2 linked regions of the Homo sapiens genome follow. The protein of the gene in region 2 interacts with the protein of the main gene of each other region in a pairwise test. Each region holds a gene or a part of one and is shown on either strand. Other genes may lie near its edges.

Region 1 (12,320 bases), on a different chromosome or scaffold from region 2:
GCCAGGAGTTCAAGACAAGCCTGGCTAACACGGTGAAACCCCGTCTCTAGTAAAAATACAAAAATTAGCCAGGTATGGTGGCGGGTGCCTGTAATCCCAGCTACTCGGGAGGCTGAGGCGGGAGAATCTCTTGAACCCGGGAGACGGAGGTTGCAGTGAGCCAAGATTGCACCACTGCACTCCGGCCTGGGCAACAGAGGGAGACTCTGCCTCAAAAAAAAATTTAAATGATGCCTACCTTCAAGCAACCAGTGTAATAGGGAAAAGACTTGTAACAGAGATGGGGAGGGGAGTAAAATGAAAAAAGCCAGGAAGAAGCATTACCCCCAGAAGAGTCATATTTCACTTGGCAAGGAGCCTCAAGAGTGCTGGTACAGATTAAATGGTATAGAAACTTGACCCGTAGGCTTGTCAGTTCACTTGTCTGTTCTGTAAAAGCAAGCAAGGCTATTCAATCTCAGTCTTTATTCCCTGCCCACCTCATTTGCTCCAGCCCACATCATGAGAACAAATAAAATTCCTTTCTCTACTTCATCCTCCTTTAGAAGACTGGGTGAAAGGAACAACTTTACTCCCAGAAAGCTTCTTTTTCCAACGAACCTAAATGCCAATCCATAAAAAATCTAGATTTCATTGAAAAGAACTTTAGAGTTCAGCAAAAGAGCTAGGGAATCTCAAGTATTCCCCTAACAGAAACCCAAGGTGAGGCCATTTGAATAGCTGTCTGATCTCCAAGGAGCCTCTGGAGAACAGAAAGGAAAAAAAAAAAAAAAAACTATGTTCAAGAAAGATGAACTTGAGTTCAAGATTCACTTAAATGGAAGCCTATAAGGATTACTCTTCCTTTCTTAGAATGTTCCCAAAAACCAGAAGAAAAGGAAAGAGAATCCAAACGATTATATAAATATGTGATGGCATATGTATTTCTCTAGCACATCCTTTCATGAAGATTGCGTTTTGCATGGTACCGGTACAAAAACAGAAACATAGACCAATGGAAAGTACAGAAAACTCAAAAATAAAGCACACACTTAAAACAATCTTATCTTTGACAAGGCTGACAAAAACAAGCACTGGGGAAAGGACTCCCTGTTTAATAAATGGTGCTGGGATAACTGGCTAGCCATATGCAGAAGAATGAAACTGGACCCTTACCTTTCACTATATACAAAAATTAATTCAAGATAGATTAAAGATTTAAATGTAAGATCTCAAACTATAAAAATCCTAGAAGAAAACCTAGGAAATATCCTTCTCAACATCAGCCTTGGCAAATAATTCTTGGCCAAGTCCCCAAAAGCAATTGCAACAAAAACAAAAACTGACAAGTGGGACCTAATTAAACTAAAAAGCTTCTGCACAGCAAAAGAAACTATCAATAGACAACCTACAGAATGGGAAAAAATATTCACAAACTATGCATCCAACAAAGGTCTAATATCCAGAATCTATAAGGAACTTAAGAAGCAAAAACGAAATAACCCCATTTAAAAATGGTCAAAGGACATGAACAGACATTTTCTCAAAAGAAGATATATAAGTGGCCAAGAAACATATGAAAAAATGCTCATTATCACTCATCATCAGAGAAATGCAAATCAAAACCACAGTGAGATACCATCTCATGCCAGTCAGAATGACTATTATTAAAAAGTCAAAAAAGAAAAAACACAGATGCTGGCAAGGCTGCTGAGAAAAGAGGATGCTTATACACTGTTGGTGGGAATGTAAATTAATTCAGCTACTGTGGAAATGAGTTTGGAGATTTCTCAAAGAACTTAAAACAGAGCTACAATTTGACTCAGCAGTCCCATTCATTAGTGGGTATGCCAAAGGAAAATACATCATTCTCCCCATGCACTCGTACATTCATTGCTGCACTATTCACAATAGCAAAGACATGGAGTCAACCTAGGTGCCCATCAAGGTGAACTGGATAAAGAAAATATGGTACATATATACCATGGAGTACTATGCAGCCATAAAAAAGAATGAAATCATGTCCTTTGTAGCAACATGGATGGAGCTAGAGGCCATAATCCTAAGTGAATTAATGTAGGTACAGAAAACCAAATACCACATGTTCTCACTTATAAGTGGGAGCTAAACATTGAGCATTCATGGACATGAACATGGGAGCAACAGACACTGTGGACTGCTAGAGGGGAGAAGGGAGAGGGGTAATGGGTCAAAAACTACCTATTGGGTACTATGCTCACTACCTGGGTGCAATGTACCCATGTAACAAACCTGCACATGTATTCCCTGTATCTAAAATAAAAGTTGGAAGAAAAAGAATATTAATGTGTTTTTAAAGTGTTTATCTCATTCAGCCTAAAAACAGTTCTGTGATATTCAAAAAGTGGTAATCAGTTGGGCATGGTGGCTCATGCCTACAATCCCAACACTTTGAGAGGCCAAGGTGAGAGGATTACTTGAGGCCTGCAGTTCAAAACCAGCCTGGTCAACATACTGAAACCCTGTCTCTACAAAAGATAAATTTTAAATTTAGCTGAGCATGATAGTACATACCTGTAGTCCCAGCTACTGGGGAGGCTGAGGCAGGAGGATTCCTTGAACCCAGGAGTTCAAGGCTACAATGAGCCATGATGATGCCACTGTACTCCAGCCTTAACAACAGAGTAAAATTCTATCTCAGAAAAATAAAAAAGGTAGTAATCATTTTGACTTTTACACATTCTAAGTATACTTTATAAAGAAGTATGACCTGTTTTTTTTTTTGAGACGGAGTCTCTCTCTGTTGGCCAGGCTGGAGTGCAGTGGCACCATCTTGGCTCACTGCCACCTCTGCCTACTGGGTTCAAGCGATTCTCCTGCCTCAGCCTCCCTAGTAGCTGGGATTACAGGTGCGTGCCACCATGCCTGGCTGATTTTTGTATTTTTAGTAGAGATGGGGTTTCAACATGTTGGTCAGGCTGGTCTCCAACTCCTGACCTCATGATCTGCCCACCTCAGCCTCCCAAAGTGCTGGGATTACGGGTTTGAGCCACCATGCCTGGCCTAGGTATGACCTTTCAAATATATAATCTATGAAAGATATCCTCCCTCTAGAAATATTCCTTTAAAAAATTTTTTTAAGTTCTAATTTTCATGGGTACATAGTAGGTGTATATATTTTTAGGGCACATAATATGTTTTGATACAGACATGCAATGTTAACTAATCATATCATGGAGAATAGGGTATCCACCCCATCAAGCATTTTTCCTTTGTGTTACAAACAATCTAAATGTACCCTTTGAGTTATTTTAAAATGAACAATTAAGTTATCATTGACTAGAGTCACCCTGTTGTGCTATCAAATAGCAGGTCTTTTTCATTCTTTTTTTTCTTTTTTGTAACCATCAACCATCCCCACCTCTTCCCCCAGCCCCCTGCTACCCTTCCCAATCTCTGGTAACCATCCTTCTATTCTCTTTGTCCATGAGTTTAATTGTTTTGATTTTTACATCCCACAAACAAGTGAGAACATCCAATGTTTGTCTTTCTGTGCCTGGCTTATTTCACTTAACATAATGATCTTCAGTTCCATTCATGTTGTTGCAAATGACAGGATCTCATTCTTTCTTAGGGCCAAATAATACTCCATTGTGTATATGTACCACATTTTCTTTACCCATTCATCTGTTGATGGACACTTAGATTGCTTCCAAATCTTAGTACTCTAAACAGTGCTGTAACAAACATAGGAGTACTGATATTTATTCGATACACTAATTTCCTTTCTTTTGGGTATATACCCAGCAGTTGAATTGCTGGATCATATGGCAGCCCTATTCCTAGTTTTTTGAGGAACCTCCAAACTGTTCTCCACAGTGGTTATACTAATTTACATCCCCATCAACAGTGTAGAAGGGTTCCCTTTCTCCACATCCTCGCCAGCATTTGTTATTGCCTGTCTTTAGGATACAAGCCATTGTAACTGGGGTGAGATGTTATCTCATTGTAGTTTTGATTTGCATTTCTCTGATGATCAATGATGTTGAGCACCTTTGCTTATGCCTGTTTGCCATTTGTATGTCTTGTTTTGAGAAGTGTCTATGCACATCTTTTGTCCATTTTTTGATGGGATTATTGGATGTTTTCCTATAGAGATATTTGAGCTCCTTATATATTCTGGTTATTAATCCCTTGTCAGATGGGTAGTTTGCAAATACTTTCTCCCATTCTGTGGGTTGTCTCTTCACTTTGCTGATTAGAAATACACTTAAATCATTAAGTGATTGGCACAGCATCCTGTAGAAAGAAAACTGCAGAGGAACATTAGCCTAGATTCCATGAGAAAAGCCAGCCATGAAAAAAAACAGGCTAGATGAACATCAGCGAAAGGAAATCAAAGTGAATATTTTGAATAAAGGAGAAAGTTAAAAGAGAAACCTACAGAAATAGATCTAATAGATCAAACAAGCAGTTGTTAAGCTACTGTAATCAAAACTATTCATGAGACATCACTGGACAAACTAGCTGCACCAAAGGCATGCTCCAAAACATGTTTGGGCGGCCCACAACCAACCTACCAAAACTAAACATTCACTGCCACTACCTAATCAGCATTGTCCTGCTCTGTTCCTCAAGTATCCTGCCTGCTTCCAAGCGCCTCCTCTGGGTTCACTGTATTAGTACAACATTCATGTACTTACTATTCAGTGAAGAACCTGGCAATTCCATATTGGCTAATATCTTCCCTGTTTTCTAGCAGCTGGCACACTGCATCCTCCATGTAGGTGAGGACATGTCGCTGAGCTGCAATCAAATAGCAAGAGAGAAAGAGAAAATGAGAGAAAGATTTTAAAAAGAATGATCCCAATCCTAGTAGGAGGTCATGTGTAAGGCAATCCAGGTGTTGGCTCTGTCTGATGACACTTCATCAGTGGACTGGAATAGGCAAAGCAAACTTGCTGACCCTAACTGAGCTATAGTCTCAAAGGATAGATTGGGAGATGATGTGAACATGACCAATTGCCATTTGACTGGCTGTTAGTATTAGCATCAACCCTTCATTCTTCATCTCAATCACAAGGGTGGGTTGAAGAGGAGATTTAGCACCATTCAGCAGATACACCTGGAAGTTCTTTTCTTTCTACCTCCTTCTATTCTTTTCCATTTCTGCATCAGAAACTTATCCCAGGGAGTTAGTAATTCCATGCTTGAAGCATGGATGGTATGATTGTAAAGAAAACTCTGGCCAGGCACAGTGGCTCAGGCCTGTAATCCCAGCATTTTGGGAGGCTGAGGCGGGTGGATCACTTGAGGTCAGGAGTTCGAGACCAGCTTGGCAACATGGTGAAAACCTGTCTCTACCAATAATACAAAAATTAGCCAGATGCAGTGGCTACTTCCTGAGTAGCTAGTAATCCCAGCTACTCAGGAAGCTGCGGCAGGGGAATTGCTTGAACCTGGGAGGTGGAGGTTGCAGTGAGCCAAGATCATGCCATTGCACTCCAGCCTGGGCGACAGAGCCAGACTTCATTTCAGAACAGAAAAAAAAGAAAACTCAGTTAATTTAAATTAGAAAAAAAAAAAAAAAGTCACTGGAAAGGTTTAAGGACCATGAAAATTTTCGTACTGGTGTATATATAAGTTATTAACTTTGGTAAATAACAAGACCATGAAATCTATCTGGCTTGGTTTATTAGATGTCATGTTTTCTGCATTTGTTGTGACTTGGAAATGTGTGAGTTAATCATGGGCGTATAATAAAAAGTATGAGTATTAGAGTGAGACAGACCTGAGTTTGAATCATGGCTCTGTCTTGGTAGCTTAATCTTGGATAGTTACTTAGTCTACACCTGTTTTCTTCTTTATCAAGTGTGAAAAGCAATATAATTTAACTATGTTTCTCAAAATATGGTCAATCAATTTCTTGATCTGAATCCCCTGGGATGCCGTTTAAAACGCAGATTTATAGTCTGGCACTGTCCCAGATTTAGTGACCTTACATTTTTTACTACAGCCCAGTAATTTTTAACAAGTACTCCTGATGCTTCTTATGTACTCTTAAGTTTAAGAATCACTGGTTAAGAACCTGGGCTTTGGATTACAGAGAGTTGAGAGCTCCATTCTCAGCTCTGCCACTTCCTAGTTATGTGACCATAAACAAATTATTCTTCAAGCCTATTCTTCATGGTAAAATGGGGATAATAATGGTACTTACATTATAGGGTTATGAGAAATAAATAAGATAATACAGGTAAAACACCACTATGTGTTTGGTACATAGTACGTGATTGATAACATGTTTCCTTAAAAGCCTGTCTCAAAGCATTATTGGGAGTTTACTCAGTAAACAACATAGGCCAGAACTTCTTAGATGTCAGGTACTCAAATACTTCTTCCCTTTCTCTGAATTTTATCCTTAGGTATGACAGAGGTTTCCTGACAAACTTTACATAGAAGCTTCCAATTCAGTGTCCACATTTACCATAAAAAATTCAGAAAAATACTTTCATCTGGAGCAGTGAGAACAAAAAACCCCAAAGTGATGAATATCCTTCCAAAAAGCAATTCTATGAAGTTGCTGCCAAAGTAGACATTTACTTCTTTCACAGTTTCATTCCTCAGGAAAATATGATGGAATTACCTAAAATTTATAAATATTGGTATTTCAAAAAACTATTTCTGAAGTCCTGGTAGTCTAGTGAAGCTCATAAAACAAGTAAGTTTACCTGCCAACCTGAGCCCAAAAGTCTTCATTTGACCATAATGATCGCGGTGACCTAAGGTTTCACCACGTTCCCAGCAGCCTAAAGTCCAGATGGATGACCTGTTTACATTCTGTGACTCATTCTATCTAAATGAGTGCTTCCCAAAACTAACAACTATAAACCACTGCAAACCCTGACTGCCCACCCCCAACCCCACCCAAAAAGAGGTGAAAACAAAATCAGTGCCTCAACTCAACAGTTCATCCAACTAGAAAACTGTTTCTTTAAGAAACGGCCAAAACTAAGAGTGAAGCTGTGAGATAATACCTGCCAATTTCTGGTATTGTTTTCAAAATATAATAATTATAATTAGGTGTATATTAAATTGGGAGGGAAAATGGCCAGGGAAACATTAAAATCAGCTGCATTTTCACCTCTGTGTTCTCCTTCCTTTCTTCTATCGGTTTATCCTGATCTTATAAAAAGAGTCCTTCCTTAGGCTATATGGCCTTTTATGACTTAGCTCTACCTAAGGCTAGCACAGGATTTTTTTTTTTTTTCTTTTTGATGGTAGAAATGAAAGAGCTCTACTTAGTAGCAAATCCTGCTGCTTCTCCTCCCTAGCTCCAGGGACTCAAAGTTAATGTGAAAGCTTTTTACGGGATAAATATTTTCAGAGCAGTAAAAATCAAAGTACTTTTGTCCTTCTAGAAAAAAAAAGCAGGAATTTTCAAGAAAATAGACTTTATACCAAAAATATAAAAAAGGAAAGAAAGAAATATATTGGACCATGCATGTTTAACATTAATCTACCAATCAGATATTTAGTTTCATATTACAAATAATAACAGCTACCATTTTTGAGTACTTGCACAATTTATTAAACAACAATGTGACAGATATAGTACTGTACTAATTGTTTCACATGCTTTATTCTATTTCTTCCAAATACAATCCTATAATAGTTATTCTTAGACTTCTATTTTTACAAGTGGGAGAACTGAGACTTACAAAATTAATTTACACAGCTAGTGGGAAGAGAAGCCAAGATTTGAACCAAGGTTTACCTGATACAAGAACCCATTCTCTTAACACGTTGCCTCACCATTAACACTTTATAATCAGTTATGGAAGTAAAAATTATCTTTATTTTACACAGTGCACAAAGGCAGGAATGTATGTTGATAGTAAAATCACCTGAGAGATATGGTCCATTTGGGTCCACGTGAATTTATGTGTGTGTATGTCTGTCTGTCCTGTCCCCCCACCTTCATACCAATCAGCATTTGTGTGAAGTTAGAACTTGTCCCTAAATTTGAAAGTTTCTTGAAAAGAACCATCCCATCCATTCCTAGTTCGCAAAGTAGAAATAGAAAGCCCTGGTGTTCTTTTTACGTGTGGGTGAAGGGAAGAAGCTAAGAAGAAAAGTTCCTCCCTGCAGAGAGTTTTACACCAGCCAACAGCCAAGTGCGAAGCTCTCCCTAATTGCCGTGCCCTGGTGGTTTCCTTCACCTGCAGCTCTTATCAGTCTAATGCTCCCTCTGTGGTTAAGGGTACCACCCAACACGGGAAAATCCTTAGTTTATCAAACTTCAATGAGACAGAAGTTCAAAGCTCTTGCCTGGCAATAAAACACGGAGAGTGTCATTTTACATTTTTTTTAATGCAAAGGAATAGGCTTTAATTTATGTGAATGATTAAAGAATAAAAAACAGCACACCTGCATCCCTGGAGGGCAAAGATATCTGGGCACCTTAGCTGCCCCTTGGAAAAGGAAAAGCATTTAAGACAGGCTTTTCCTCTTTGGCTTTGCCATGACTTCCACAAGATGAGGATTAAGTTTTCTAACCTGTACCTACGCTCTAGTGTCCTAAAATTCACACTAATGCCCAATTGTCCATGTCTTGCTCAGATAGCATCACTGTCTGAGATAAGCATTTAGAATTTCATCATGCTATACTGAAAAATCTAAGGCAAATGTAAGTAAACACTATATGATCCTTACTTGAACCTAGCAAGTGAAGGCAATTGTGGATCAGAAACTTCTTGGTTCTGTTGACTCACCCCATGTTGATCACGTAATCTCTTTATAACACTGTCAATCCTGCTATAAAATGGGTATGATTCTAAGAATATGTCTGATAATAAACTACTTCTTTAGAAAGCATTCAATATATGCAAAATGTAACATGTTAATGATTATATTATTATTGCTACATGCTGACTCTACAGATTAAAACAGCATAACAATTTTTACTGCAATGGTTAAGAATATGGGTTCTTGAGCCAACTGAACCTGGATATGATTTCTAGCTCTGTCATTTACTGACTGTGTAACTTCATATAAGTTACCTTATCTCTCTGCCCTTTTCTATAAAATTGGGCAATACTAGTACCTACCACAGAAGACTGTGGTGAAGATTAAATAAAATAATCTATGTAATCATCTTAGAATAGTGCTTGGCACATAGTAAGTGCTCAAACAATATTAGCCCCTTACCCCCTTATTGAAAGTTCTGCTCATCAAACCAAGATGTTTAGACTATCTTCAAGGATTCTTGGGCTATATAAAATCTATAACTATAAAAATATACATCATCATATACCCATTTCAGGTATGACCTTTAAACTTGTAGGAAGCATTCACTTATTAACTGCTAATTACTCAGCAGGCCCTAATTTATATGGGGAAAATCCAAAACTATTTATTTTATTCTCTTCCCAAGCATAAATACCATAAAAGCATTAGTTGTTTATTTCACAATTAAATGATAAGGGGTCCTATTTGGAAATTTTTGTTTGAGGGGTCTAGAATTTCCACCTTAACATTAGTTAGAGCACTCTTTTTTAAAAATTATTATTTAATACAGAGTCCCAATAATAGAATAACTAAGTCTCACTGGAAAAAATCTTCATATGAATTGCTATATATGATATTAACAGATGCACACATAGGCAATAGCAGTACAAGTGAAAAGCAGAGTATATACATATACTCAACTTTAAACCTGACTTTTTCCCCCCTTGCCAGAGTTTGATAAATAAATTGATAAATACATAGAGTTTTCCTTTCTTCCTTTTGAGACATATTTTGGTCTATGAGGCCTCTTGAGATTGAGATGCTGGATGGCACAAATAAATGTTTGCTGAACTAAATTAAAATGTTCTCTGAGATTTAAAAAAAAAAGTAAACCTGTTAATCAACAACCTGTCATGTAAACTGCTTAGAAGTTTCAAGTTCAATATCATTTATAAATCACTAACATAATCTAGTATTTGATCTTGTGAGGTACAAATAGATAGCTTAATGGTTTAAACAGTTAATAGACCTCTAAAATTTATTATTTACATCCTCCATCTTTACTGGTATATCCTGGTCCAAGGATATAGTGTGTTCTTGTGAAACATTTTGTCATCCATACGAGACCATCTTTGATCTTAGACCACACTAGACCAATTTCCCTTAACCAAAGGGAATGGGGAAATGAGGAAATCTAGCACATGTAATTCTTATACAACCCAACGAAGTAGGTAATAGCAATTTTTTTAAAAACTAGAGAGGTTAAGAAACCTGCCCAAAGTCTAAATAAATGGCAGAGCTTGGATTCAAACTTAGATTTGACTCCAAAGCCCGTATTCTTCCATTCACCCCACTACCTCTCAAAACCAAAAATGAAAGCAAAACAAGAAAAATCCAAAAACCTACAAAGTGCCCCATCTTACGTTGTATTATCTAGAAATTGCTGGCTCTTCCCTGTTAATACTTTATAGTATTAAGAAGCTTAAATTGGTAAATCAAAGTACTGGTATGATCTTTAAATTTTTAAAAATGTTTATTTCTAGTTAAACACACAATAATTTTTAAAGGTTCAAACAATACAGATAAAGCTAAAGACTAATTCCAGTTCCCATAGATAACAACTATTATCAGTTTGGGGTACATATTTTCAAAAATACAGAAATATAGTTTGTGAGCTTGTTCTGTTTTCATGTTTTAAGTTGTTTTTAAGTGTCTGATATATCCTTTCTGCATCTTTTTTTTTTTTAATCAACAATGTCTGGAGATCTTTTATAAAACAATATGGAACCTACTTACCTTTTTGATAGTTCCCAATGGTAAATATTTCCCTACTGATAAACATTTAGGTTGTTTCCATGTTTTCACTATAATAAACTGGGCTGTGTTGAACATTCTTGTACGTGTTTCCTTGTATATATGTGCAAGAGTTTTTCTAAGGTAGATTCCTCAAGATGGAATTGGCATTTCATAGGATGCACAGGATATCTTCATGTTTACCAGAGATAGACAATTGCTTTTACAAATTAGTTATTCCAATTTACACACCACCAGCTGTATGAGTATCTATTTTCACTATCCTTGGCCTAATGCTTTTTAATTTTGCCGATTTAATAGTTAGAAAATAGCTTTTCTCTGTTGTTTTAATTTTACTTTTCTTGATTACAAATAAAGTTAAGCACATTTTCATGTTTATTTGTATTTCTTATCCTTTGCCAATTTTCTTCTCTGGTTGTCTTTTTTTCTTCTTCTTGACTTGTAGATAATTCTATACATGTCACAAATACATACATCTACTTCATGGTCTTCTTTTAACTTGTCTGTGGTATCTTTCATTTTACAGAAGTTTTAAGTGTTGATACAGTCAAAATAATGTATCTGTGGCTTTTTTTTGGTGTGCTTTGTGTCCTATTCAAAAAGGCCTTCTCTACTCCAAGTGTATAAGCCTATTATCCTATATTCCAGTCTGTACTGCATGATACTGCCACCTTTAAAGAGCCATGCAGTATGACATGTATCAAACAGAACTTTCTGAGAACAAATTTGCAAATTAAGGAATGACCTTTTATTTTATAATTGTTAATTATAAAACAGACAAAAGCAATACATTGCATCTATGCATCCAAACCACTAAAGTCCTGCTATACGGCTAGTCAAACTCAAATACTAAAAGACACGCCAGAGGCAAACAAAGCATTACACATATGCTAACATCACCTGTGACAACCAGAAAACAAGAGGTGTCTAAAGATCTTTATGTTAAGTAGAGGATGAAAAACTAAAGTCTATTTCCCTCAACCAAAAGGGGTATTGTACTGGTTAATAGCTGTGAAAAGCTGAGTGCCTTGACACTCAAAACAGTCTCTGGTCAACCATTAATCCTCCCCTCTTCCCTTCTCTTTCCTAAAACTGGTGGGTTTTTTTGTTTTTTTGTTTGTTTGTTTGTTTTATATATAGTTTTGGGATGTCAATTAAGGGTAAGTGCTTAAATCCTACTGCCTCAGTATTTCCAGCCTAAATCTCATAATAATACAGCATTTGTAGGTTGGAGTCCTGCAATTTCAAGTGCCAGAAACTACAGAATCTTTTTTATTTTAAGTCAGAGTCTCGCTGTTGTCACCCAGGCTGGAGTGTAGTGGCGTGATCGCGGCTCACTGCAACCTCCACCTCCAGGGTTCAAGCGATTCTCCTGCCTCAGCCTCCTGAGTAGGTGGGATTACAGGCGCCCGCCACCATGCTCAGCTAATTTTTGTACTTTTAGTAGAGACAGGGTTTCACCATGTTGGCCAGGCTGGTCTCAAACTCTTGACCTCAGGTGATCCGCCTGCCTTGGCCTCCCAAAGTGCTGCGATTACAGG
Region 2 (12,320 bases):
TTGAGCGAGCTCCCTGGAAGATTACAGAGTCTCTGGCTGACACCAATGGCCCTGAGCTGTCTCCTCCCCTAGCTGAGCTCCAGATAAGCACCTAGTGCTGGTTGAGAGGGCCACGCCTTAGGCAAAGGCCATGTTCAGGTCCTCCTTATCCTTGGAATGACAAACTCCCAGAAGCCTGCCTGGATTATCCCCGGCCTCCAGGAGTGCTTTGCTGCTCTCTCACTTAGCTCTTCTTACATTTGGCCTTTCGTGAAGGTCAGCAGCGGGCACACATATTTACTCTCAACCCTCTGAGTGTGCGACTGCGTCCCTCTCACGTCTGCACCCCCAGTGGTCTGGAGTGTTTGTTCAGATCCCTGCAAGGCGAGCTGAATGCCAGGAACCAGCTTACAGGCCAGGTGTCCTTCCTGGGGACACCTGTCCTATTAATCTATTTGCTCAAACTCAGAGCCTGCCTCTTCCGCTCATTTTATACTCTCCCTCTCATCTGTCCCACATTTCGGATCTACAGAAGACACCTCATAAATAGCAATGATGTGGCTGAACTACATCCCAATACCTGTTGTAGGCATTGATGAACAGGTGCAGGTTGCCGGGGTTCATGTCATTCACAATGTGCTGGCGGTAGGTGTGGACCACTTCCACGTTACTCTGCATTTCTTCCTGCATTTAGAGAGGTGAGAAGATGGTCCTCATCGCACTGTGGCCCTGAGCTGGTCACTACTCTCTCCATTCTCCAGGTTATTTGGAGACAAAGTAAAGATAATAATGCCTAATCCACAAGACAGCGACGGACCTAAAAAAAAAACCTTTGGGAAAGCAACACGCCCAACCAGGTGCAGACAGGGGTTTCACTATCCGCTGGGAGCAGAAAAGACCCCCATCCTGGAAAGGCCACACCCCACCCTTCCAAACTCATTACTTTGGGAGTTTCAATTTGAAGTCAGACATCCTGGATCTAGAGCTTAGCTTCATCACTGTCCCTTTCGTAGGCAAATCTTTCAACCTCTCTGAGCCTCAGATCTCTTAAAAAAAAAAAAAAAAAAAAGGGAAGAGAGAGAATGTTGCCTACTTCACTAGGTTGTAGGACTTAATGGAGGTTGTGTTCTCACCTCTACTAACAGTAAAAATTGGAGGCAAATGTTAGTAATTGTTTTCCAATGGGAAGAGCTGAAAAGAAGTTTTTCATGCTTGAAAAGCAAAATCAACTCATGCCACAGGAAGTTACTGAAAAGAAGGGCAATTGCAACTCCCACCACGGCCAACCAGAGCCTTGGGGAAGTCGGCCTCAGCCTCCCCGTCTCTGGGTGCTTTTTGAATGTTATTTGCGACAAACAACTTGTTTGCTCTGTTTCTCATTTGTACGAGGGCAGACACTGTAGGTTTCACACAAGGGTCTGATATGACCAGTGGCAACCAGATGAGAAGTTGGAGTTGGGGGTCAAAGAAAGCCGGTGTCAAGCTTGAGCTGCATCAAACAGTCCAGGATCATTTAGGCAGCAAGGAGGTCAACTGGCTACTAAGAGCAAACTCTGGAAAAAATAGTCAGGAATCACGCTGGGATTTCAGATCAAAACCAACTATAGCGATCTGGGGGTACCCTCAGACACCATGGCCGGACCAACCAGTCTCCAAATAACTTGGGGTATAATCAGATCAGATGCTCAACGCTATGTCTGACATCCCTCCTCCAGTGAAACAGAGACAGTGGCTGTGAATTTTTCCCAATTCCTATCAGTTTCAGATTACACACTCAGGACAGGGAAAATGTGTCACACGCTGTGGAATGAATCGTAAAAGGGGAAAGAGGACTCTAGTGGGCTAAACTGTGGCCCTCAAAAGATATGTCCATGTCAAATCTCTTGAACTTGGGAATGCAAACTTGCTGGGAAAAAGGGTTTTTGCAGGTGTAATTAATTAAGGATCTTGAGATGAGATAATCCTGGATTACATGAGCCGGGATGAAATCCAATGGAAAGTATCCTTAAAAGAGGAAGGAGAGGGAGAAATAAAACAGACACAGAGGAGAAGACCATGTGAAGACAGAGGCAGAGAGTGGTGTGAGCAGCCACTAGCCAAGGAATGCCGACAGCGACCTGGAGCAGTAAGAAGCAAGGACGAATTTCCCCTGGAGCCTGTGGCGGAGGGGCGGCCCTGCCAGCGCTTGACATCGGAGTTCTAGACTCAGAGCTGTGAGAGAATACACTTTTGTTTTCCTTTTTCTCTGTTTTTGAGACAGAGTCTCCCTCTGTCTCACCCAGGCTGCAGTGCATGGCGCGATCTCGGCTCACTGCAGCCTCTGCCTCCCAGGTTCAAGTGATTCTCCTGTCTCAGCCTCCCGAGTAGCTGGGATTACAGGCGCGTGCCACCACATCCGGTTAATTTTGTATTTTCAGTAGAGACGGGGTTTCACCATGTTGGCCAGGCTCGTCTCGAACTCCTGACCTCAGGTGATCCACTCGCCTAAGCCTCCCAAAGTGCTGGGATTATAGGTGTGAGCCACCCTGCTCATCCCACTTTCGCTGTTCTAAGCCATCCTGTTTGTGGTAATTTGTTACAGAAGCCACAGGAAACCAACACAACAGGCAAACCTAGCAGTTGTACTCGCCAACTCCAGAGTGGAGCCTCTGTTCCCCTGGTACACTCGCCAACTCCAGAGTGGGGTCTCTGTTCCCCTGGTACACTCGCCAACTCCGGAGTGGGGCCTCTGTTTCCCTCGTACACTCGCCAACTCCGGAGTGGGGCCTCTGTTTCCCTCGTACACTCGCCAACTCCAGAGTGGGGCCTCTGTTCCCCTGGTACACTTGCCAACTCCAGAGTGGGGCCTCTATTCCCCTCGTACACTCGCCAGCTCCAGAGTGGGGCCTCTGTTTCCCTCGTACACTCACCAGCTCCAGAGTGGAGGCTCTATTCCCCTCGTACACTCGCCAACTCCAGAGTGGGGACTCTATTCCCCTCGTACACTCGCCAACTCCAGAGTGGGGCCTCTATTGCCCTCGTACACTCGTCAACTCCAGAGTGGGGCCTCTATTCCCCTGGTACACTCGTCAACTCCAGAGTGGGGCGTCTGTTCCCCTGGTGTACTCGCCAGCTCCAGAGTGGAGGCTGTGTCCCCAGGACTCATGGGAGTGTCAGATGGTCACACATGTTAGCTCAGAAGCAGACAGTGGTATGTAAGCAAAGCAGGTCACTGCAATTTCAGGCAACCAAGGGGTTTTCCAGACCCTGGGCTTGCAACCAAGCCCATGGCATACCCTTCCCGAGGGTAGCTGGCCCCAGCTAGAGACACAAAACCAGTGTCTGGGGCCAGGCAGGCTGGGCTGATAAGATGACTGCTCACTTCTAGCATGCTGTGAGGGGCTTGGCTCAATCCCCTTTAGTGGGGTAACTCTGCAGAAGAGCAGCTCATCTCAGAGCCAGGCAGCAGCACAGGCAGCCGCCATCCTGCTGTGGTGACCAGAATGAAGCCAGATTCATAGGTTCTAATACCGGCCCCACCTCTCCCTGGTTGAGACCCTATGCAAGTCACTCAACCTCTCTGGTCTGTTTCCTCTTCCATAAACTGGGAATGAGAACAGAATTTATCACACAGGTCACAGAGCACCTGGGTGGAATCCTATTCCTATAGTTAACACTTGTGAAGCTCTTAGGACTGAGCCCAGCCCAGCACACAGCTAACTCCACGGACATGTTTGCTACTGACCAGATTTATAACAGCCCAGAACTGGGAACAACTCAAAGGTCTTATCAACAGGTGAATGGAAAAACAAACTGTTGCACATACATAAAATGGAATACTTCTCAGCACTAAAAAGGAATAAACTTTTTTTTAAGAGACAGGGTCTCTCTGTCACCTAGGCGGAATACAGTGGGCTATCCCAGCTCACTGCTCACTGTAGCCTCAAACTCCTGGGCTCAAGCAATCCTCCTGCCTCAGCCTCCCAAGTAGCTAGGACTATAGGCATGCAGAACCACCATGCCTGGCCAATTTTTAATTTTTCTGTAGAGACAAGGTGTCACTATGTTGCCCAGGCTGGTCTTGAACTCCTGGGCTCAAGCAATCCTCCTGCCATGGCCTCCCAAAGTGCTGGGATTATAGGAATGAGCACTGCACCCCGACTAGGAATAAACTATTGATCCACTCATTAACATGGACAAATCTCAAAATGGTTATGCTGAGGGAAAGAAGCCAGACCAAAAAAAAAAAAAAAAGAGTACCTACTATATAATGCCATTTATATAAAATTCTAGGAATTGCAAAGCAATCTATAGAGGCCAATGCTGATCAGAAGTTGCCTGAGGAGGAGGGAGAGGAGGACTATCAAGGGGCACAAGGAAACTCTTGGAGTGATGGAGACGTTATTCTCCTGATTACAGGGATGGTTTTACAAATGTATATGCATGTCAATTGTACACTTTAAATATGTGCAGTTAATTGTACTTCAATCAGCTGTTTTTAAAAGACACATAAAAAAGAGAGAGAATGAATGACTTGTTGCTTATGAATGAATAATGTCACATTATCTCATGAGCACCAGCTCGGTGGCCCCCAGTTGATTGTGTCTTGTTCTCTCCACCCCCACATGGGGCCCTGTGCTGAGCACCACACAATGCCTTGCTCAGCAGGAACAACAGATTTGCCAGACCACGCAACTCACCTTCCCAAAAAGGTGGGACACCACCATGTCCGGCAGAGCTTGGGTCCATCCTGAGATCTGGAAAGGAGTAAAGTGGGTGGATGAGAAACCAGGAGCTAACAGTAGTTAACAAGGTCAGCAAAACCCCACTTCCCTGGGTGCAGGGTGGCATTGCTGGACTCCCCCCTACATGCAGGCCTCAAGGACATCCCCCTTGATAGAAACTCAGTTCCTGTCTCCAGTTCCCTCCTGGACCTGATCCCCCAAATGCAGGGCCTGGGACTATATCCAGTTCCTTATTTTCAGAGGCCCATGCACAAGATGCACAGCAAATAAGTGCTGAATAAAGACCCAGCTACTGCTAGCTTACCCTGCTCCAAACATTCACCAAGTCCTCAGCAAAGAGGGCCATCCATTCACCTCTTCTAAAAACACACTGAGCTCCCCAGTCTATACCCCAAGATATGCTTGGCTCCCAACTATCCCTCCTCTCTCATCTCCAAGCCAGTTTCCCCTTTCTAAGTATACTGATATTACCAAAGACACTGACAATCTTCTTTTCCTACCTCTCCCCAGTGACTAGGTTTGCAGCAGGAGCTCTATAAGTCCTAGTATACAGCAGAAGCTCCATAAATGTGTGCTGACCTAAGCATTAGGCAAAAATGAGTAGGAGAGAAGCTCTAGACCTAAGGGTCTTTGGCTGGCCCTTGCCTGCCACAGCCTAGCTGTGTGGCACTGGGCAGTCTGCATACCTCTGGGTCTCAGACTTCTAATCTGGAACTGGGAGTGCCAGGAACTTCAAGGCCACAAGGTCAAGGGAAGGACTGCAAGAAGTAACTGCACACATCACAGTATCTAATACCAATGCCTGGTAATCGAAAGGCTGGAGTTGAAAAAGAAGGGAATAGTACAGCTATTAAAGCTGTACTGAAGGGAATAGTACAGCTATTAAAGACAATCCTCAGGCTTCACATTAGCCAGTGGTCGACATCCCCAGACCTTCGAGTCTCACTCAGGACAGCTATCATGAAGCCCAGCGGGTTGACTGGAATGTCACTTCCTTTGCTGGAAAATCAAATAAAAAACAGGGAGTGTGTTCCACTCCAGAACGTCATACAGGCTGGACGGAAGGGCTCCTGCATTCTGGAGGAATGTTCAAAGAACAAATGCAAAATCACAGTGGCTGGTACAGGGCAGGGGATGGGGCAAGAGGCAGGGCCCCTTCAAACCATCGGTCCCTGGCAGCCACCCAAAATTGGGCAAAAATGCACTTGCAGAATGAGAAGCTGCGATCACCTCAGCTTGAAAGACTCTGTCCTATTTCAACTGGAATGACCTCCCCCTCTCCTTGGCCAACACTGAGGCCTTTACAGGGAAAAAAACAAAAACAAAAACACCACAATGATAATTTTTAAAAGATAAACAAGGAACCTTAGGACACCAGCCAGGACAGAGCTTCCCAAGACAGCACAGGTCCCTTCTCCTCCAGGCAGCCTACCCTGCTTGCCAGGCCTGCCTGTCTCCCACCCTGGACAGGAGCCCCAGGGGCACGGGTGGTCAGGTCCACGAACCACAAAGTCAAAGCAAGCTGCATCCAGTCCCCGTTCTACTGCCTAGCTTTATGTGACCCTGGACAATCCCCTTAGCCACACCGAGTCCTTACCTCTGAAACGGTGATAAAAATTCTCACCTCCTAGAGTTACTATGAAGATTAACTGAGATCATGCACACACAGCAACGTAGAATGAAACTAGCACATGGTAAACTCTCAATCTACGTTAGCTAATTATTATCGTAAAATTCTGTGGCACAGTCCGTACTAAATACATATTTATTTTTCTTTAATAATATGTGAATGGATTCCTAAGATTCATTCCTAGAGGCTTTTGTCTTGTTCATCTCAAGAAGTCTTGTTCTTCAAGATGCTCAGCATCTTGACCAAAGCCTGGCACAAGTTATGTACCCAGCTAATACTCATTAATCCAAGCAATGCTTCTCCAAGCTGCCTCAGGGACCTGTGTCCCAGTGCTTTCCCTGGCTTAGACAGCTTGGTGGTATTTAAGTCTTCTGAATGGCAAACGGCTGAGGTCATGTGTACTGTTCTAAGTAAAGCAGAGGGAACTGGAGTGGGCAGTAGAGGGTAGTGGAGGAGTGGGTAAAGAGAGAGCTCGTAGCTCCAGGGATCCCCCAGGCAGAGGCTGTGTGCACCTGTCCCTCTTCTTGCAGGGATCCCGCCGGCCTGACAGGCCCCCACCTCACCTTGGAGGCGGCCCAGTCCATCCAGCCTTCCGCACAAGGGTTCACGTTGATAAGGACAAGGCCCTCCACCATCTCAGGGTTGTTTAGCTGCAATTCAAGACACAAAGTGAGACAGACATCCCAGCAATCTGAAACACTAGGAACTTTCCAAGGCAAACCAAAGCTTGAGAGAAGTACCCAGAAAAAGGCAGTGTGGGCAGCAGAGCAGGCTGCTGCTCCCCGGCCCCACCCCATGCAAAACTGAGGTTCCAGCACAGCAGACACGGTATCGGGTCCTAGAGAGAGTGGGAAGGAGAAAGAGGAAGTGCAGGAGAAGTAGGAAGCCCGCTGCTTTGCAGGCCTGCCTTGGGCAAGTCACTTCAACCCACGGAGGCTCAGCTTCTCCAGCTATCAAATGGGTGTAACACACCATCGACCTCATCAATCAAACAAGGCGCACAGCACAAATGCTCTCTAGTTGTGGCAGTAACAACTGTATTACTTACTTCCAGGATAAACACATGCATACACACACACACACACACACACACACACACACACAGAGAGAGAGACAGAGTTATGCATCGCTGAATAACAGGGATACTTTCTGAGAAAATTCATCATTAGGAGATTTTGTCATTGTGTGAAGATCTCAGAGTATACTTACACACACCTAGACAGTATAGTCTACAACTCACCAAGGCTGTATAGAACAGCCCTTTGCTCCTAGGTTTGCTGTACAAACCTGTACAGCATATGACGCTACCCAATACTGCAGGGAATTGCAACACAATGCTAAGTATTGATGTATCTAAGCAAATCTAAACATAAAAATGGTACAGTAAAAATGAACCATTATAATCTTATGGAACCACTGTCAAATGTGCAGTCTGTCATTGACCAAAATGTCATTATGTGATGCAGATACATACAGATATAGATATGTACACCTGGGGTACAGTTGAGACCATTTTTAATTTGCTGAGAGCCTATATGGCCAGACCATTTTGTATTCATGTCAGCATTCCTTTCTTTTTTTTGTAAGATGGATGTTGTAGAATCATGTCAGTATTCCCAACCTCCAGCAAAGCCCAGCAAATAATAGGTAGTCAAAATACCAATGGATGTACAAAATGAGTATTGTTGCATTCTTACACAATTGCTCGGTGAGGATACAAAGGAACAGTGGCTCTTGACCTGAGCCCAGAGAAATAACAATGACAACTGTCATGAAAACTTCCCGTGTCTGATTCTAGTTTAGAATCAGTTATGACCCAGGAGTGCCCTGACTACAAAAACCTGTACAGCTGTTACAAAGCAGTGTCATAGCAGAGTACTCAGTGAGTGAGGAGCGTCCTCACTAGATGGCTAAGCGGACAAAGCCCATGACAAAGGAATGTGTCCAGTATCATCCTTGAGTGGAGGAAGAGAAAAGGCTGTGAGTATATATATATACGAGTACCCATGCACCACACACACACACACACACAACTGTGGAGAATACGGGTCATTTCTTTTTCCCTTTTGGGTTTTTGATGCTTTTCCAATGTCTTCCTTCATCTTAAAATGTTATTTAAAATGCGATTTTCAAAAAATGCCAAAGCACTCACAGCAAATCGAGTTAGGATGTAGGCGCCTGCTCCTGTTCCCATGCCAATAATGCTTTTCAGCCTGGAAGCAAAAATACAAATGCATGTCACACAAGGACAGAGTGACGGGAGCCTCCAAGGACCCACTTAGAACTTCCTGAGGGTGACCGCCTGGCTAGGCAATGCGGGAGCATGCTGCCGTAACTGCCTGCACAGCTCTGAGGTCACCATGCTTTAGGACTGGACAGAGACCTCGACCTTGGAGAGCCGCGCCCCTTCTCCTCACTTCCCTCCTGGCCGCCACCCAGGCTCTGAGAGACCGTCTGACATTTACGGGAAGGCCCGTTACGGCATCATTTCTTCCCACTCTTAAGCTTTATTTTGGATTCTAAAACTTGGAATGAAAACAAATTGAGCAAGAACCATGAAGTTATCATTCTTTGAAGAGCTCAAGACAGAGAGGAACACTGGAAAAATGAGGGTGTGGAGAGAAAAGCTAAGGACTCAGGCAACTCCATTCCAGAACATTCCATGGGAAAGAGAAGGGAATGGAAGAACAGGAGGCAAGAGCAAATGGGTGGGGCAGCTGCCATCATGCAATATAACATTCACGCAAGAGGAAAACTGAAGTTAGAGGAGACAGACTAGAGCTCAGAGACTGTGTGAAGAACAGTGTTCACAGAGTGACGAGCTAATTTCTTGCCTCATCTCTAAATTGCAACCTTAATTTTAGTGGTCAGTCCAGATCAAAGCCAAGGGGCAGGAAGATGCTAGAAACCAGGCTTCTCTGCAGACAGAGAAGGAGCTGATCCTTCGCTCTTACCCAAACTGTTGAAGGACTCCAGGAAGCATTTCAGCCAGCTGATCCATGGAGGGGTACATGTACCTGGGGATGACACAGAGAAGCCATTAGTGAGCGCCCGGACAGAAACGGGTAATCCAAACAGGGACACGCTTGAAGGGTGGGGACCATGCAGCAGCCTGCCCCATGCACCCAGACCCCCCCACCCCCAAGTCTAGTCCCTTCGCATCCTCCTTCCAAGACCCCTGCAGCACACTCTATCAATTGCTTCCTACGCTCCAGGTCCCATGGACACATTCTGGGAATTAGCTCATTCAATTTTCACAATAACTCTAGGAGGCTGCTAGGATTTCCCCTCATAGCAAGATTATAAACATCACTGAGGCTGAGAGATGAGACACTTGGCCTCACAAGAGCAGTAGATGGTTAGCCAGAAACATGTCCTCACTGTGTTTGTCTGGTTTTGGGTCTAGGGTGTTGCAGAAACTGACTAGAAGGCATTTCACAATTCCAATGTCAGGGAGAAGGAATTAAAACAGGCATGAATGAGTTCCATCCGCAAAGCAGTGATTGATCCTCACACATGCCGGGCTCTTGGTGAGGCAATGGCAGGGGTCTGTGAGCAAAGCAGATGCAAACCAGGACAGGAGCCAGCCCTCGAGTCAACAGAAACAGGGGGTGTTACTCATAACAAAGCCTATCGAAACAGAGACCTGCCGTGCTCAGATGATCAGGGAGGGCTTCTTGGAAGAAGTGACGCTGAAGGGGTCATGGGAACCTGATGAGTAAAGCGTGTGGGCAGGGAAGCAGTGTATGCGGACGCCCTGGGAAGAGCCAGAAAGAGCCCGTATGGTGTGGCTCCACATCAACAGAGCCACTGAGCTGAGAAGCCGCAGGGCAGAAGTGCGGCAAAGACATGAAGCTCCTCTGAAATGGCCATGGCTCAATTTGGAGCCAGCAGCTCCTAAGGTGTGACACTGGAGAAGCCACTTAATTGCAGGGCCCTCTGTTTCTTCCCTGTTCCCCAGGGCTGGTGTGAGGCGAGGAAGCAGCAGAATTCTACTTCCAAGGTCCCTCCTGTGTAGGTGGTGGACACCGGGGCCAGGAGGAGCCCAGCCAGGGATCCCCTACCCTGCTCTGCTGTCTCGGCTTCAGAATACAGGGGGCTCACCCTTAAAGGGCCTGGGAGATGCTCCCTCACCCCTCCCAAGCCCCACACTCTCCTCTGCCCTACTCCAGGAGGAAGAAACAAGTCAGGTCCCACTCTGACAGTGGGTCCCACCAGATGCACACGAAAACCACATAGTAAACTAGGGGGAAAATGCGCTGTAATACCCAGACCAACGGAATAAAAATTCCTGGGGGTGGGGCTCAGGCCTCAGAATATTTGTAAAACTTCACCAGGGGGAACTAAGAGTCTCTGCTTTCCCCCAAGTCTTTCACACAACTGGTCCAACCAAAGATTTACGGACACACCTCTGGCTTTATCTGCTGGTTAACAATTAACCACGTCCCACTGTTTTAATACACTTTTAATTTTTGGTCCTGGCCCCATACGGTTGGCTGTCCCTTCCCTTCCTCTCTGATAAAGGTTAATTATTAAGGATAATTCTGAACACTAATAAAAAAGGATATCTATTTATAAATGCCAAGAAGGCCCCTTCTGGAAGACTTTAAGCCCAAGAACCTGCTCCTGCCCTAGTTTAAACACAGGTCAGGTGCAGGGACAAGAGGGGTTATCTCTGAGGTCTGCCACCCCCACATGATGCTGATTGGGGGATCCAACAAGCTTGACCATAATTGCACAAGGGGAAATTGAAAGGCCATGCCCATACAGATCACGAGCTGACAAGGGCCAGGCAGTGCAAATACTCTCAACTAAGGCAGCCTGATGTTCCAAAGAGGATACACGTCTCAGTAGATAGGATCAAAGCCAACTCCCCAGTCATCAGCTGTGCAACCTTTTTTTCTTTTTTGGAGACAGAGTCTTGCTCTGTCACCCAGGCTGGAGTGCAGTGGTGCGATCTTGGCTCACTGTAACCTCTGCCTCCCAGGTTCAAGGGATTATCTGGCCTAAGCCTCCCGAGTAGCAGGGATTATAGCCACCCGCCACCACGCCCAGCTCATTTTTGTATTTTTAGTGGAGACAGGGTTTCATCACGTTGGCCGGAGACAGGGTTTCACCATGTTGGCCAGGCTGGTCTCAAACTCCCAACCTCGGTGGTCCGCCCACCTTGGCCTCCCAAAGTGCTGAGATTACAGGCATGAACCACCATGCCCGGCCTCAGCTGTGCAACCTTCAGCAAGGTAGTTAATGCCTCCATGCCTCAATATGTTTGTCTGGAAAATGGAGCTAACAACAGCAGCCACACAGAGCTAGCTGTAAGGATTAAGCCCAGTGTTAGACACAAATGATGAAGCCTAGCCCACAGGAAGGGCTCCATCAATGTTACTTCTCTCCCTCTCTGTTTCTCCCCAGACTTCTAGGTTTTTCTTCACACTATTTGGTGGTGTCAAGTCCTCCTCCACTGAAGTCCTGTCCAGGCTGAGCACACCTATCGTAACGCCAGCCTTGCAGGAAGGCTGGGGGAATGGGGAGATAGTATCTGATAAGTATGTTGTTTCAGTTTGGGAAGATGAAAAAGTCCTGGAGATGGATGGTGGTGACGGCTGCACAACAATGTCTGCATGTCCTTAATGCCACTGAACTATATACTTAAAAATAGTGAAAGTGCTAACTTTTATGTTATGTATCTTTTCCCACAATTTAAAAAGTGCTTAAGATGATACGTTTTATATTTTACCACAGTTAAAAAGTATTTAAAAGAGCAAAGCACCTGAACCCCTCCCCGACACCCAGTTTCCACCCTGTAGAGCTCATAGGGCAAGAGGCCTCTCACCCTGCGGGGAAGGAGGCTGCGCCGTCCTGCTGGCCAGGGGCGTCCACGTGGCAGACGGCAAAGTGCTGGGTGATCTCCTGCATGTCCTCGTAGTTGAAGAGGGGGTTGTAGCAGGTTTTGTCTGAAGAACAGCAGTGAGGGAGAGAAGAGAAAA

The links.
Region 1: the proteins of NDRG1 (region 2) and CSTPP1 interact in binary tests that used the Homo sapiens proteins (3 or more experiments, as listed by UniProt).

What each region holds. Positions count from the first base shown.
Region 1 is NC_000011.10:46,979,652-46,991,971, reverse strand, and holds part of CSTPP1 (centriolar satellite-associated tubulin polyglutamylase complex regulator 1), read right to left. Parts: intron 4,765-12,320; coding exon 4,662-4,764; intron 1-4,661. UniProt on the Homo sapiens protein: Regulator of the tubulin polyglutamylase complex (TPGC) that controls cytoskeletal organization, nuclear shape, and cilium disassembly by balancing microtubule and actin assembly.
Region 2 is NC_000008.11:133,249,881-133,262,200, forward strand, and holds part of NDRG1 (protein NDRG1), read right to left. Parts: intron 12,288-12,320; coding exon 12,167-12,287; intron 9,351-12,166; coding exon 9,288-9,350; intron 8,547-9,287; coding exon 8,486-8,546; intron 6,984-8,485; coding exon 6,897-6,983; coding exon of another isoform or gene 6,846-6,896; intron 4,716-6,845; coding exon 4,659-4,715; intron 664-4,658; coding exon 560-663; intron 1-559. UniProt on the Homo sapiens protein: Stress-responsive protein involved in hormone responses, cell growth, and differentiation. Acts as a tumor suppressor in many cell types. Necessary but not sufficient for p53/TP53-mediated caspase activation and apoptosis.